Regions from separate parts of the Homo sapiens genome. Here region 1 is linked to region 2. Evidence: fine-mapped expression QTL. A gene starts in region 2. The other region holds a variant in brackets. All regions are shown on one strand. Distances are between the middles of the regions.

Evidence for each region.
Region 1: its variant is fine-mapped to the expression of SLC7A8 in whole blood (INTERVAL, PIP above 0.99). The same link has a PIP of 0.9 or more in activated naive CD4 T cells.

The regions. Positions count from the first base shown.
Region 1 is chr14:23,150,843-23,159,175 of GRCh38, reverse strand. All of the region lies in intron 3 of SLC7A8 (solute carrier family 7 member 8), which reads left to right. It also overlaps the pseudogene RNU6-1138P. Among named protein-coding and RNA genes, the nearest start is that of SLC7A8, 29 kb to the left of the region's middle. The variant TG/G (reference allele first, on the strand shown) is at 4,177.
Region 2 is chr14:23,179,989-23,188,321 of GRCh38, reverse strand. It overlaps SLC7A8 (solute carrier family 7 member 8), which reads left to right and starts at 4,662. Exons shown (of 11, transcript NM_012244.4): 1 at 4,662-5,558. The coding sequence starts at 5,408. It also overlaps a transcript of RNF212B not described here.

The DNA.
Region 1 (8,333 bases), 29 kb after region 2:
GGGGAGATAAGGTATGATTTATAGAGTCTTAGAAAAGATTAGTCTAGTGAAGAGAATCGTATGCAAAAACACATCATTACAATACAATGTGATGGGGAAAAAATGTGGGCAACACAGAGAACGGGGCTTCAAAGTTGGGAAGACAGTGCTTGGAAAGGCTCCCAGCTTGAGCTAAATGTTGAAAGGTAAGTAGATTTTATCCAAGGAACAGGGAATCACTGAAAGATTTTGAGCAGAGGAGTCACATGATTAGGTTCACATTTGGGAAAGAAAAGACTGAAACTTGAAGCAGAGAGACAAGCAGGCTAGGCATTTGTCCAGGCCAGAGAGATGGTAGCCTGAACTAAGAATGAAGTAACAAGGATGGAGAGATGACAAAAACAAGAAAGATTTAGGAGTAGAATCAGCTGGACATATTGATTAATTGACTACTAAGGGAAGGAATCAAGTTTGTCCCCAAATCAAAATGAAATACGTTTCAACTTAAATGTTCCCAGCATTGATGACAAGCAGTTAGAATGTGTTCTATGTCGGCCGGGCGCGGTGGCTTACGCCTGTAATCCCAGCACTTTGGGAGGCTGAGGCGGGTGGATCACGAGGTCAGGAGTTCGAGACCAGCCTGCCCAATATGGTGAAACCCCGTCGCTACTAAAAATACAAAAATTAGCTGGGCGTGGTGGCGGGGGCCTGTAGTCCCAGCTGCTCAGGAGGCTGAGGTAGGAGAATCACTTGAACCCAGGAGGCGGAGGTTGCAGTGAGCCGAGATTGCGCCACTGCACTCCAGCCTGGGCGACAGAGCTAGACTCCATGTCTGCCTTCCATGTCCTCCCTAGAGCCCCGAGGGGTGCTGAGCAGGTCTCTGGTTAGAACCTTCCCCAGGGTGGTGCTCCCAGGATCCTGCTCAAAATTTTGCCTGCTCTAGAGCAGTATAACTTAGAAAGGGATTGGGACTCTTGGGAAATGTTATATAAATGCAACACTTTATTCACTCAACAAACACTTATCAGTGCCCATGATGGGCTAGTTACTGTTCTTGGCACGGGGGAGACAACAATAAACCGAAAGACTCTCATTCTCATGTGAAGCAGCAGCAGCAGATTTAGCCTTCTTTCTTAACACATATTATACTACACCCACCTGTGTGTCCTCTATTGATGCCGCGGGTAATACACAATCAGTCATACGTTATTAAATATTTGAGTGTCTGTTCTGCTCCAGGCACTGTGGCAGGCATGGGGATACTTAGTTTTTGTACCAAGGAACCCACAGTCCAGTGGATGTTCCTGACAAGTATACAGGGAATTTCAGTTCAAACTGGAGTTCCAGTTCCCCAGGAGGCCAGCATCCAGGCAGCTCCTGCAAGAAAAGTGAGGATGGGACTGGGGTTGAAGAAGCTCTTGGAGAAAGTGACATGTAAATTGAGACTGAAAGACCAGTTGGACATAGTCAGGCAATATTCAGCACGGAGGGAGGGTGGAGTAGAATGGGGTGGGGAGAATGTTCTAGCAGAAGGAATTAACATGTGTCAAGGTCTGAGGACAGGAAAAATCACAGTTGTTTGTGGGAACTACAGGTTGTTCAGTATAGCCACACCATAGACTAGGAGGCAAGAAATATATAATAGAAGCAAGGACCCCATCATGAAAAGCCTCATGGGCCATAAAGAGATTGGGCTTTCCCTTAGGAGGAATGAGGTTTGAAGGGTTTCAGACAGAAGACCGACATGATCATATCTGTATTTTAGGAGAGTCATGCTGCAAAGCTAAAGGATGGATTGGTGAGGGGAATAAGATCAGAGGCAAGAAAAGATGATTACAATTCAGTTGTAAGGATTCAGATTGCAGATGACTATCATGTGCATCTTGGGGCAGTGGGAGTAGAGAAAAGTAGATGCATTTGGCATTTAGGAGGTAGAATTGGTAGGCCTTGGTGATTAAGGTTGAAGGAGTCAAGGACTGCATGGTCTTGTTGGGGATACAGGTGAAGTAAATCAAGGACAACACTGGGTCGTATTGTCTGTACGTATTGTTGTATCATCTGAATTGGTGTGGTTCAGACTGGTCAAGTTGACCCCTCTGTCCTTGTCACCCTTTCTACTCACTCTTCAACACTTAAGACTTGCTGGGACTTGAGAAAGCATCCCCTGTGCTTTTGGACTCTTATGTCTACAATGGCAGAGTAAGTAAGTTACCTGAGAAGTCAGCCTTCTTCTTCGTTTCAATGTGCTTCAACTGCTGGCCCAGATCACCTCCTCTTTCCTGATTCCCATAGTGTCTCTTCTGCTCTTCAGCTTCTACTCTCAGACAGAAGTTCTGCTGTTCAGAGAGTGTGTGTGCCCACACCCTGGAAATGGAGGAATGAGGGGCTTGTTCTGGGAATATGTCTACTTCTGATTGGAAGAACAGTGAATGAGATTGAGGTTTCCTGAAACAGGAAACTGTTTTGGAGTTCAGCTTCCACCAGGTGTGGTAGAGATTTGCCTACTTTCTTGTACCAGCCTAGAAACTTAAATTCTCTGGCCTTTTGTTGCTGACTGTCAAGGATCACTTTGTTTTTCTCAGAGGAGCCAGGGCCCATGGTTTAAATAAAGTCACCCATTAATTGTGTCTGGTAAACTTTTAAGGGTTAATGTGACACACCAAATTTATATCACATACCTAAGAACATAAAATCAGAAGGCTTATGGGAGTGAGGCCCAGTGGTACTTGGAGCTTTGGGGGAAAGAAAAAAGGGCATCTCTGTTATAAGAGTTCAGCAAGTTGTGCTCACTTTAGCGGCACATATACTAAAATTGGAGCAGTACAGAGAAGATTAGCATGGCCCCATGTACAGATGACATGCAAATTCACAAAGTGTTCCTTATTAAAAAGAGAAAAATATCCGGGCGCAGTGGCTCATTCCTGTAATCCCAGCACTTTGGGAGGCCGAGGAGGGCGGATCACCTGAGGTCGGGAGTTCAAGACCAGCCTGGCCAATGTGGAGAAACCCTGTCTCTACTAAAAATACAAAATTAGCCGGGCGTGGTGACATATGCCTGTAATCCCAGCTACTCGGGAGGCTGAGGCAGGAGAATCGCTTGAACCCGGGAGGCAGAGGTTGCGGTGAGCCGAGATCGTGCCATTGCACTCCAGCCTGGGCAACAAGAGCGAAACTCCATCTCAAAAAAAAAAAAGAAAAGAAAAGAAAAAAGAGTTCAGCAAGTTTAAGTACAAGCTACCCTTGGAATTGGGTTATAACTGAACCGTTTTGGGGGAATTTTGCAGCCTGGGTCCAGGTTTATAGAATTTAGTGAACACCAACAGAGCCTACAAGCCTTCTGGTCCAAGAACCAACTAAACCTCACAGGATCCACACCCTGTCTTCCAAGACTGAAATATGATGGAGGGTCAGGCTAGCCCTCCTGGGCTCAGTGCAGACTCAACAGAACCCATTCTCATCCACCTTGCTCCATGTCTCGGGGGACATCAGCCCTGAGAATTGGTGTGTGAGATAGCAATTTTTCAGGCCCAGGCTGAAAAAGTAATGAGTAGGATTAAAATAGGGTTCCCCAGGGTGGCATGGCAGGCCACCCTGGATTTCTTGGTGTCCAGTTTTTCGCTTCTCCCCGATCCAGGCCAGCTGAGGAGCCATGTTTAGCTCATGCTGAAGAGAGAACTACTCAGCTCTTGGAAAATGCTGAGCTGGGTATTCCTGCCTCTTGGCTGAGCTAAATACTGGGTGGTGATTCAGCAGAAACCCCAGCTCCAGCAGCTGGCGCAGGAGCTAACAGGATAAGAAGGAAGGGGAAGAGAGAGCCAGGAAGGGAGGAGGGGAGGGGATGGGGCAGTATGGGCAGGAGCTTAGCTGGAAGTGTTTGGTAAAAGCTGTGTGCCTCCAGGAGCACTCACAGCCCTCACAGCTTCTCTGCACCCTCCTCCTCTGCTGGTGTGTCCTTGGAAGAGAGAGGCCCTTCCGGAAGGCTCAGAGCACCTCCTCTCCTTTGGAGGGGGTTCCGAGATTTCTAAAACGTTGTAAGTGCTTCGAGATGAAAAGGGCTGGAGAAGGGGAAATGTTACTATCGTGCGATAGGCAAGATCTGTTTCAAAACCACACTCCCCACTGTGCACTTTATAGAAGCTGGGATCAAAGCGCAGTTTATGAGGAAGGGCTGCTTTGATTTTTTTTTTTTTTTTTTTT[TG/G]TCTGTTGTGTGGCTTTTTGTGGGTTTTTTTTTTTTAACGTTTTTCTCTTTCACCAGTCAAGTTATATGTATAACTTTATCAGACAAGTTATGTTACATGTACAATAATCCAGGTGCGGAAGGACTTTATAATGTGGGCCCCTCACCCGCTCTAAAAAATGTCTTGAGGTGGGGGTGGGCGGGGAATAGAGAAGGATTCTAGGAGGGTTCTGTGAAGCTGGATCCGTGTCTGCCCACTCCCCCACACCTCCAGGCCTCTCTGGGTCTTTGACGAGGAAAGACTGTTCCGTGTGGCCTGCGTGGGCAGAACTGGAACCTTATCAGAGCCTTGGGTTGTGTGCGTTAGAGGTCAAACAGGCCTCCGTGTTTTCTTTGCCTATCAGCGCCTTTTGGCAGCCGGCACTGCTTACCTCCTAGATCTGGAAACGCCTGCGGTTGGACAGGCCAAGCCGAAGCGGCTTTTCCACAATTAGAAACACGTGCTCAGTTCCTTCCACAAGCGGGGGAGGCGGCCAAGGAACTCGGTGCAGCCAATCACAGAGCCGAGCGTAGCCACACCCACGCCCCCACAGGCCCGGCTTCCCTGCCCAGCGGCTCCAACCTCCAGCCTGGGCACCCAGACCCAGAGGGCTGCTGGGAGGGACATGCCTCACCCCTTTTGCTCCAGCTGGAGGGGAGGGAGTCTGTGGGAGCTGGCCAGAGCGTGGCAGAAGGCAGAGAAGTGAACGCCCCAGCAAAAGGTGAGGCTGAGAAGCCAACCCTTCTGGCAGGCCATGACCCAGGTGAAATTTATGGCGTTTCAGAGGGCTGGGGAGCTCCATCCAGAAAGGTGCCTGTTTTGCAGGTTTGGAGAGGAACAGGGCGTTCTGATTTCTACAAAGTGGCGTCACTGCTTCCTTTTTCAGCAACCGTCTGCTTAGTACATTCCATCTTGCTGTTTTCAGTCCTGGCCTCTCTCTGTTCTGCTCCTCTCAAGCCCTTTTTCTCTCCCACTCATCTGCATTGTCCTCCCCTTGCTCTCTCCCGCCCTGTGGTTTCTTGTGCTCTTTCCCTCTCTTCTTCACCATCTGTCTTTATGGACTTTGGCAAGTCTGGACATTTTTCCCCCTTTCTACTGCCTGTTTTCACTTATCTGAACAGACAAGGAGGAGTGGCCTGGTTCTGGAAATGTTAAAGGAAAACCAAGCCTTTCCAAGCCAGTCCAGTCCACTCCTGAGAAAGGTGCAAGCCAGCGAGACCGAGAAATCCAAATGGAGTTCCGGGAGTTTGGAGGGAACATGTGACTGTGACATTGATTAAGGGGGCTGGTGGGAGGGGACCCAAGGTGGAGATCCCTGTGGGAAATGACTTTCTAAAGCCCTGGGAGCAATGGATGCACCTTTCTTGGTTTCTGAGGCATAACTGTGAAAGTCTTCCCCTTTTGCCATATTGGCATCTTCCTTCCTGCTGCACAGAAAGCAGTCCAGGCTGGGGCTAACCAGTGTCTTGGTGACAGACCCAGAGTCCCAAGTGGCACTGGCAGTAGTGACCATGGGTACCACTGACCCAAGCAGGAGGAGAGATGATGTGGGAGCGGCCAAGGGAAAGCAGAGTGATCTGTGTATAATGAAGGAAGGCGGGGCAGAGGCAGAACAAGCAACTGGGAATTGGGCTGTCCCAGTCTGGTCTTTGCTGCGAATTAGCTGGGGTCTAAATTCACTCACATATAAAATGAGGTTCTGGGGCCGCCATGGTGGCTCACAACTGTAATCCTAGCACTTTGGGAAGCCGAGTCAGGCAGATCGCTCAAGCCCAGGACTGGGAAGCTGCAGTGAGCTATGATCATGCCACTGCACTTCAGCCTGGGCGACAGAATGAGACTCCCATCTGTAAAAGAAAAATAAAATGAGGTTCTGGGTCTCTAAGGTCATTCCTGCCTTCTGATCACCCATGAGGCTGGACACAAGCCTTGGGTGGTAGGGCGCAGGCTTCAAATATTTACCTCTAGGGCCAAGAGTTGACTACAAGGAGAGTCCCAACTGGTTCATTCTTCTTAGCACTGTCCTTATAACAACCAATCCAGCCCCGTATCCAGGTGGCCCTATCCCAACCTTTACCCTGTCAGACCAGAATAGTGTGGCTCATCGAGTGGCAGCTGGCTTAGTAGAAGAAATGAGATTGGTTCAGGGATCCATGTGGGAATGTTCATTGGCTCCCTGAGGGAGGCACAAAATGACCCCCTGCTGGCCCAGCTCAATGAGAAGCCAGAGTCCTGTATCCAAAGCAAGGGAGCACCTGAAAACATCACCGGGTGTGGCGGCTCATGCCTGTAATCGCAGCACTTTGGGAGGCCAAGGCAGGTGGCTCACTTGAGCCCAGGAGTTCTAGAGACCAGCCTGGGCAACCTGGCATAACCCGTCTCTACAAAAAATACAAAAATTAGCTGGGCCTGGTGGCACACACCTCAGCTACTCAGGAGGCTGAGGTGGGAGGATCACCTGAGTCTGGGGAGGTTGAGACTGCAGTGAGCCATCATCATGCCACTGCACTCCAGCCTGGATGACAGAGTAAGACCCTGTCTCAAAAAAAAGAAAACATTGGTGGCTCATGCCTGTAATCCCAGCACTTTGAGAGGCCAAAGTGGGCAGATTGCTAGAGCTCAGGAGTTCAAGACCAGCCTGGGCAACATGGCGAAACCCCATCTCTACCAAAAATACAAAAAATTAGCTGGGCGTGGTGGCACATGCCTGTGGTCCCAGCTACTCAGGAGGCTGAGGTGGGAGGACTGCTTGAGCCCAGGAGGCAGAGATTGTAGTTTGCCAACATCAGGCCACTGCATTCCAGCCTGGGTGACAGAATGAGACTGCTCTCAAAAAAAAGAAAACAGTTATCAAGTAGTCTCTCTCTGGGAATAACGTGTACTCTTAGTGAGCTTTTTTTTTCTTTGCTTTTGTTTTGTTTTGTTTTTGTTTTGTTTTGTTTGAGGTGGAATCTCTGTCACCCAGGCTGGAGTGCAGTGGCACGATCTTGGCTCACTGCAACCTCTGCCTCCCAGGTTCAAGTGATTCTCAGCCTCCCGAATAGCTGGCATTACAGGCATGCTAATTTTTGTGTTTTTAATAGAGACAGGGTTTTGCTATATTGGCCAGGCTGGTCTTAAACTCCTGAACTCAAGTGATCTATCCGCCTCAGCTTCCCAAAGTGCTGGGATTACAGGTATGACCCACTGTGCCCAGCAAGCTTTTTGCTTTTTTTTTTTTTTTTTTTTTTAAGAGACAGGGTTACCCAGGCCAGCATGCAATGGCACAATCACAGCTTACTGCAGCCTTGAATTCCTGGGCTCAAGTGATCCTCCCACCCCAGCCTCCCTTGTAGCTGGGACTACAGGTATGTGTCACCACATCTGGCTAATTTTCTGTTATTTTTTAAGAGACAGGATCTTGCTGTGTTGCCCAGGCTGGCCTCGAACTTCTGGCCTCAATTGATCCTCCCACCTCAGTCTCTACTGTCACTGGGATTACAGGTGTCAGTGACTGTGCCTGGCTGTACTTTGTGAGCTTTCCTAGAGGAAGGAGAGACAGCCACAATATGTACCCTCTCCCCACAACTCTGTCTGGCATCCGGGGCACTTGCTGGCCTTGCTTCATGGGCCATCCTATGACATATTAAACCTGATATTTACTCCCTAGAGCAGCACGGTGGCTTCTATGTGCACCCTCCTTGAATTTTCTGTGTAGATGTATCTATCTGTCGTTTCCATTCAGTAAGCTTTAGCGCCTACTGTGTGCCAGACAGGACCTCAAGGCCACACCAGCCACCAGGGGATTGTTTATGGCTGCGTGTGCACCGCTGGCTGTGGACAGTCTCCGTGGGGCCTGAGGAGTGGGGCAGCACGGGCAGCAACCGCACAGCTCTTCAGCTTTCTGCAGGGTGTTCCTCCCTAGCAGACAGAGGCACGTGACTTATAAGACCTGGTGGTATTTTCTTCACTAGTGGAAACTGAGGCACGGGAATATGTTTGACCATCTGGGCTTCTGGTCCAGTGCGTTAGCCTGTGCTCCCCAGCCCCACAGCCTGTACCTGTGACCCACTCCCAACTTCCAGACAGCTGGGTTGAAGGACCCCAGAGCAGGTCATTTGTGAAGGAGCATCCTCCAGAGAAAAAGATGAAACAGAT
Region 2 (8,333 bases):
CAAGAAAATGCGGAGATCTGGCCTGCCACAGGCAGTGCCTCTTTATTTCTTTCCCACTAGTGCTGGGCTGGCTCCATGGAATCCCACCAAGTGCAGCAGACAGAGGAGTAATCTGTTGGAATTTTTGTCTCTGGTGTCAGAGCAAGGATTCATCATTATCTCCAGAAGAGCTGAATTAATTAACCATCATAACAAAGCAGGGTCAGCTGCATCCAAATTCTCAGGACTGCATAAACCCTAGAAGACACAACTTCCTTTGAACTTATGAATATGCCCAAAAGGCAAACAGAGCATACACTAAAAAGGGCTTAATCACTGACCGAGTCTCCTCATTTCATCTTCCTTTCTTTCTGACCTATTTTGGCCTTTTCTTTTTTTAATTTTTTCTTCTTTTCTCATTAATTTTCATCTGCTTTTCATTTTCTAATGAAGTAAAGGCATCTAAAACTACTGGCTCAGGAAGGCCCCATCTAATCGACCATAGGCAGTGATCCCTGGGACTCTGGGAAGAAAGTTGGCTTTAATTTAAAGCAGGGTTTCCTTCTGCTTTAAACTAAAGCACATAGATATGGGGCACATAGTTACGAGAAGAAGGATGGAGTGAGCGCATGGACTGTGAGTTGACTCCAGGGAGAGATTTGGGTCCTTTGTTGGTAACCTCAGACTTCCCAGCTCTGTTACAAAAAGCAAGAATAAAGTGCTGTCTATTGGATCTAGAAAAAAAAATCAGGAATGGAGTGCATGAGCTTTGTGCTCTATTCCTTTGCATTAGCAGACACGTCTAACTTGTCTCTGAAAGGGAATATTAACCCGGGTGTGGTGGCGCACATCTGTAGTCCCAGCTACTCGGGAGGCTGAGGCGGGAGGATCACTTGAGCCCAGGAGTTTGAGGCTGCTGTGAGCTGTGATTGTGCCACTACACTCCAGCCTGGGTGACAGAGTGAGACCTTGTCTCTAAAAAAGGGGGGAGTAGGGGAATATTAGAACATGACTGCGTGGGGGTTGTGTGTGTTTGTGTTTTAACTATCACAAGCAGCATGTCCCAAGCCATAACCTTTTCTGTCCAGTAGGTGTCAGCTACGCACAGCCTTTCTCTTTCTAAATCCATATTTGTAAGAAAACGGCCTTTCATCCATAATTTTCCCTAGTTAAAGGGATCAATTTCTTCTGATCTGAAGCACGCAAAACAGCTGAAACAGTGGCTCCGATATTGGAAACAGAATTGTACTACGTACTTGGGATATGGCCACACTGAGGACTGTGCGAAGGGGGTGACAAATGTTGGGGGGGCCCAGGTGAAGTCCTGTGGGTCTCACTGAGCAGATAAGTGTTAGGATCAAGGTGAGTCTCTAAAAGGCACAGTTAAGACACCAAAGCAAAAACACAGAGTTTCCCTCAGGTGAAAGAAATTGAGGCTTTGACCAGTAGCTATAGCATCCTGAAAAAGTGCTCAGTGTAAACTATCAATCTCCCATTTGCCCTCAAATAGACTGTCTTGTTTTTTACCTCAGGTAAAATATTTCTTTAAGCCTCAGGTTTCTAATTTTTAAAATCTTTAAGATAACTGCCTCGTCTGCCCAAGATACTACATGAGGAGGAAAAAAATTGAGATATTGTTCAGAAAACCATTTGTGGGCTATAAAGCACTATTTAAACGTAGAGAATAGAATAAAAATATAAAGGCAAATGCAGAATAGAGTAATCCCAGCACTTTGGGAGGCCGAGGCGGGTGGATCACAAGGTTAGGAGTTCAAGACGAGCCTAACCAACAGGGTGAAACCCCGTCTCTACTAAAAACACAAAAATTAGCCAGGCATGGTGGCAGGTGCCTGTAATCCCAGCTACTTAGGAGGCTGAGGCAGGAGAATCACTTGAACCTAGGAGCCAGAGGTTGCAGTGAGCCGAGAGCCGAGATCGCACCACTGCAGTCCGGCCAGAGCAGCAGAGCGAGACTCCTTCTCAAAAAAAAAAAAAATGCTCAAAATTTAATAAACATTAGTTTGTAATTTTTTACAGATTTTTGTCAACATATTACACCAAGGCTTTTCTTTCTCTCTTGTGTTCAATGTTAGTCACCTGGAATTTTGACACACTTAAGAGTTTATGTCACAAAAAGATTCCAACCTACAGAGAGGCACTTAATATAAATAATGCTCCCTTTGAAAGTGGGGAGATTCCTTTCCTAGCTTTGTTTGTTTGTTTGTTTTGGTTTGGTTTTTTTAAAGACAGGGTCTCACTTTGCCACCCAGGCTGGAGTGCAGTGGTGCGATCTTGGCTCATTGCAGCCTCAACCTCCATGGCTCACACGATCCTCCCACCTCAGCCTCCTGAGTAGCTGGGATTACAGGCGTGAGCCACCACACCCAGCTAATTTTTGTATTTTTTGTAGAGATGGGGTTTCACCACATTGCCCAGTCTGGTCTTGAACTCCTGAGTTCAAGCACTCCACCTGCTTCGGCCTCCCAAAGTGCTGGAATTACAGGCATGAGCCACCGTGCCCAGCCCCTTTCCTAGATATTACATCGCACCAGTAATCAATGGTAATAAGCCACTTATAAATTCCAAGTGCTAAAGAAATAGAAATACTAATCTTCAGCAACTCTTCCTTTCCAACGTGTGCACCTAGTACCGCTGTATTCCAAGAACGTATTTGATCCCATAACCCCCTTAGCTTCTTAGTTCATAATTTGAGAGGGCTAAAGCTTACCATATCGTTATCAGTTTGCACTGGTTTTAGCAAGAGACCTCAAATTCATCACATTCATGTTTTATCCCACATTAAGTCTGCATCATATAAATTAGAACTACCAAATATTACTGAAAGAACTCACGTTTAAGAAGCAGAAACATTATTTGTTTTATATGGTGATGTTGAAATCGGAGCAGAAGTCTTCAAATCTGAATGTATACAAATGAATCTATCAAATTTTTCCTCAGTGCTTTCTAAGGTTGTCAGGAAAGGCTAGAGGCAAATTCGACATTTTTTCATTTCCCATGACTCATTCCCTCCCATGGAGTTTCGTGCTATATATTCCCTGCCTTGTCTGGTTTTTTTTGTTGTTGTTTGTTGTTTTTTTTTTGCTGAGTCTTTCAATTTGCTGTGTCTTGAACTAGCAAAAGGAGGAGAGGAAGTTCCTCCCAACCTTTGAAACCTCTTAATACTTGCTGAGTGATCAAGGGGGCAGATGACTGCTGATTGGACTTTACCCCATTTGAAAAAGCTTTTGCTATGATAGCTCAACAAACCTCATTTTAAGGAATTAAGTATTTATTTTCCTTAAAACCCAAAATCTTTTGGAACATTTTCCAGAAAGTGAGGCCAAATTTTTGTAGTTAGGGGTCAGTTTGGGGGAACTTAATTTTTTAGGCCCACTTTAAAATTAAATAATTTTGCATAATATATTTAATAAGGCTAAAAATAACTTTATTTTAGACTTATAGTGTTGTCCACTATATTGCTTCATGCTGTTTTTTCGAAATAATTTACAATTATAAATAGACATTGTTGCTCTCACCTTAAGGCAGCAGTTTCTGAGTGAAATTCTTCAAGAAAGTGGAGGCATCATTTCGATATGGTAATAAGCTAGTTATTCTAACATCAACAAGTATGTTTCATGATCAGCGATATACTGATAATTCCCCATGTGTGCTTTTCAAATAGTTTATAAATGCAAAAATATTAGAAGTTGCAGGATCAGGGTTTGAGTCATTTTTTTTCATGTTTCAGCCAGTCCTAAATAAGAGCTGTGAACAACAAGGCTACCTGGTGATTTTGTTTTTTATCTTTTTGTATGTGCATGTGGTTTTTCTGGCTTTTTGTTTTGTTTTGTTTTTGAGACAGGGTCTTGCTCTACCTCCCAGGCTGGAGTGCAGTGGCGTCATCATAGCTCACTGCAGCCTTGACCTCCTGAGCTCAAGCAATCCTCCAGCCTCAGCCTCCTGAGTAGCTAAGACTACAGGCCTGCACCACTGCACCCGGCTAATTTTAAAATTTTTAGTAGACGGGGTCTCGCTCTGTTGCACAGGCTGGTCTCAGACTCCTGGGCTCACGTGATCCTCCCCTGTCAGCCTCCCAAAGCGCTGGGATTACAGGCGTGAGCCACCGCGCCTGGCGATTTTGTTTCCTCTGTACTCTTCGTAGCTCACAATTACGCTAAAAGAACCTTTTTCCCATTGTTAATTCCTTCCATTTCCCTCCCCCACCCGTCGATTCCCCCTATTTTTAGGAAACTCGAAGATGATGTCCTTTCAACGTTCTCTCCTGTATTCTCAAATACAGGATCCAGTCCTAAATATTTTTTAATACATTGGCTAGTTTATTTCTGATGGCATTAAAAGTATCGGCACAACTGTTCCCTGATTTATAAAGCTCACAGATGCTGTATGACCTGTAACATTATACTAGCTAATGAGCTCTCCCGGAACAGTTGACGTGGAAGGAGTTTACTTCCACTTGGTTGCAAGGAGAAAGATGGAGAAAGCGAGAGACGATTGCAAAAAGAAATAACTTAGTCCATTTTCTCAGTGCTGTTTGGGGGCTTTGTGCTAATACTTAAATTGCAGAGGAGGGAGGAGACGGGACTGAGGATGGAGGGGAGCAGAGGAGGCAGGGGCGGAGCCTCGGCGGGCGAATAAAACCCCTCGCTAAAGAGAAGCACGTTAGTGTGTGGAGAAGCCACTCTCCCGAAACCAGAGGGATGGGGCCGGCTGTGCAGTAGAACGGGGATCGAAAAGAGGAAAACAAGGGCACGAAGACCAGCGAGAAAGAAGAGGACACCTGGGAAAGGCGGAAGCAGAAGACGGGGAAGGGAAAAGAAACCCAAAGCAGGTGGAAACCAGATCTAGAGCAACACCGTCAGGTTCACAGTTTGTTTTTCTAGAAGAGAAGAAAGTACCTGAGGATTGCTCTTTTTTCCTACCGTTAATGAAAACTACTTTTGTCTTCATCATAAAAGAAAAAACTAAGGGGAGGTAAAGGCAGTCTCCTGTTTTATTAGGGGGAGAGGTGAAGGGAAATCCAGGCTCACTTTCTGAATAAGCCACTGCCTGGTGCACAGAGCAGAACCATCCTGGTTTCTGAAGACACATCCCTTTCAGCAGAATTCCAGCCGGAGTCGCTGGCACAGTTCTATTTTTATATTTAAATGTATGTCTCCCCTGGCCTTTTTTTTTTTTTTTTTTTTTAGCAACACTTTTCTTGTTTGTAAACGCGAGTGACCAGAAAGTGTGAATGCGGAGTAGGAATATTTTTCGTGTTCTCTTTTATCTGCTTGCCTTTTTTAGAGAGTAGCAGTGGTTCCTATTTCGGAAAAGGACGTTCTAATTCAAAGCTCTCTCCCAATATATTTACACGAATACGCATTTAGAAAGGGAGGCAGCTTTTGAGGTTGCAATCCTACTGAGAAGGATGGAAGAAGGAGCCAGGCACCGAAACAACACCGAAAAGAAACACCCAGGTGGGGGCGAGTCGGACGCCAGCCCCGAGGCTGGTTCCGGAGGGGGCGGAGTAGCCCTGAAGAAAGAGATCGGATTGGTCAGTGCCTGTGGTATCATCGTAGGTGAGTTCCATTCCTTCCCGCGGACCCCTCCTCTCCCCTCTGGTGGTCCTCCTGTGAGATCTTAACCCTTCGAAAGCATTATTGTTCTTCCTATTCCTTAGAAAAGGATTGTCAGTCACCTGAGCTGTAACTCACCTCCACTGGTCAAGTTTGAGAGGCATAGGAAATACATCATACATCTCTTCCTCCAAACCAGGCAAAGATTCTGCCCAGTGTTCATAGAATGGAGCAAATCGTGGTCAGAAACCCGGCTGATGATTAGCATTGCCTGGGAACTCCTTAAAAATACAGGTCCTGGTCTCGACACTTGGAGGTTCTAGTTCAATAGGTTTAAGGAGGGACTGAGGGACCTGAACAAGTTTGTATGCAGCTATTATTCCCAGGCTGGGGATGGGCTTTTAAGGTATATTTGGTAGCTATTTTGCAGTTTTATGTTAAATGAAACTATGGGATAGGTATTAAAAATAGCAAGAGCAATGCCCTGCCTTTTTATTTTAGCGTTTTCCACCTTATGCAGCACTTTTACTGTGTGAAGTAGCTGTGACAGGGCTGTTATTCCCATTTCACAGATGGGGAAGTTATGGAAGAAAAGAGGGGACAGATTGTGCCTCTCGGTAAGTGGAGAGTTTGCAGTTTCTCCAGTTGCCTGGTGGGGTCCACCTGTTTCTTAACAGCCACGGAGGACCCGGTGAAGCTCTCAGAGGGAATCAGGAGTAACTAGAATGTGTAGAATATGGAGTTGAGGAGGAACTGATGGGTAAAATATGTGTCCTAGCTGGGAGGTGCTGAAGGTGGGGAACCTGGGTGGCCCCAAGAGTGCCAGTGCAGGCCACTCAAACCCCCTGAATGTACTTTGCAGGGCAGGAGTCCCAAATACAGCTTCGTCTCTAGACAGCACATCCTCTTTCCAGAGAAGCCTTGGAGATGGATGGCAGGCAATAGCTCACTATTCCTGCCCTCACTTCAGAGTGAGAGATTGTTCTGCTATCTTTGGTAGGGGGCTTTACTTTCTTCCCAGAAAAAGGAGTGCAGGACGGTCAGGCATAGATATGCTTCTTTGTCATCTCTCCAGAGTTCCTTTATGAGAGCTCGTTGTGTCCTGGTGCCCCTGAACCAGTTTCTCTGGCTGACGCCATGTTCTATGCAATAGCTCAGAGATATTTTGGCATCTGAGCAATAGTGACACTGGAGAGCACTCTTGAAATCAAATAAAATCAGTGCAGTATTCAGATAATCCTCTTCACCTCTACACCCAGAACTTCAGTGACCAAGCTCTCTTCAGTCTCTAAAATGAAATCCCATCCCCCCCCCACCCCCACCAACTCCTCCTACACCCTGGAATCCTATTTTATGTGATTCCCTGACTCTGGGAAGTTTTCCAGGCCATCTACAGTTATAAGAAAGATAATGTTATAAGAAAAATTGTAGTCATGATCTGAATCTCTCTTTACTTTTTCTCATGACATTTTTTTTGCCTCTCCTTTACTTTATCTCAATTGTTCAAAAGAAATGAGAACAGCCAAGTATTCAGTATGTATAGCACATGCCAGTTTAAGGTCTATAAATAGCCCGTTCACCAATTTGACTGACAGAATTAAGCATTTTCCCCCTCTAGGAAGGTTCTGACTTATACACAGATGCGCACGCCCACAGGCACACAAGCACAATTAAACATCCTTCCTGCCTCAGCCTGGCTCGCCCTTCCCAATATAGGTTCAGGTATTCTTTTTTTTTGTTCAGACGGAGTCTCGCTCTGTGGCCCAGGCTGGAGTGCAGTGGCGCGATCTCGGCTCACTGCAAGCTCCGCCTCCCGGGTTCACGCCATTCTCCTGCCTCAGCCTCCCGAGTAGCTGGGACTACAGGCGCCCACCACCACGCCCTGCTAATTTTTTTTGTATTTTTAGTAGAGACGGGGTTTCACCGTGTTAACCAGGATGGTCTCGATCTCCAGGTTCAGGTATTCAAGGGTAGAGGGTATTTTCCTATATACTGATGTTTTTGTCTCTTCCTTTAACATCTTTTTCTAAGATTATGAAGAAATGGGAGTGTTCAGGTATAATAAGTACAATTTCTGTGGGTATATGTTACTACTGATTTGTCCACAACCTTATGGATGGTACTTCAATGGGAGAATAATCTCAAAGCTCCCCATGGTGGCATTACAGTAACTAGAATGGCAATTCTGGTGTTCTGTGATGAAAAGAGATTCCAAATATGTGATTTCAGAGAAATTGGGATATTTTTGCAAAACATGAGAATCCTTGTAGAGTTAATAGGCACTATTCTACCCCAACTTAAGCTAGAAACAAATTTCCCCTTTAAGATGATAACAGGGGACAAAATCCATTCTGCTTCCCCTCCCGAGTTGCTGTTGAGTCACAGATGTGCTGAGGAACTGCCCTTTCCTCTTCTGGAGAAGTTTCTCAGTGGATGATCGTGATTCAAGTGTTTTCAAGACCAAATGCAAAAATAGAAATGGCATTTTCTGTGTAGATTTCAGGGATCTGGTGTCCAATGTCAACACTGCAGAAAAAAAGAGAACTAAAAGGCAAAAAAAGGGCCGGGTGCGGTGGCTCACACCTGTAATCCCAGCACTTTGGGAGGCCAAGGCGGGCGGATCACGAGGTCAGGAGATCAAGACCATCCTGGCTAACACGGTGAAACCTCGTCTCTACTAAAAAATACAAAAAATTAGCCGGGCGTCGTGGCGCATGCCTGTAGTCCCAGCTACTCGTGAGGCTGAGGCAGGAGAATTGCTTGAACCCAGAAGGCAGA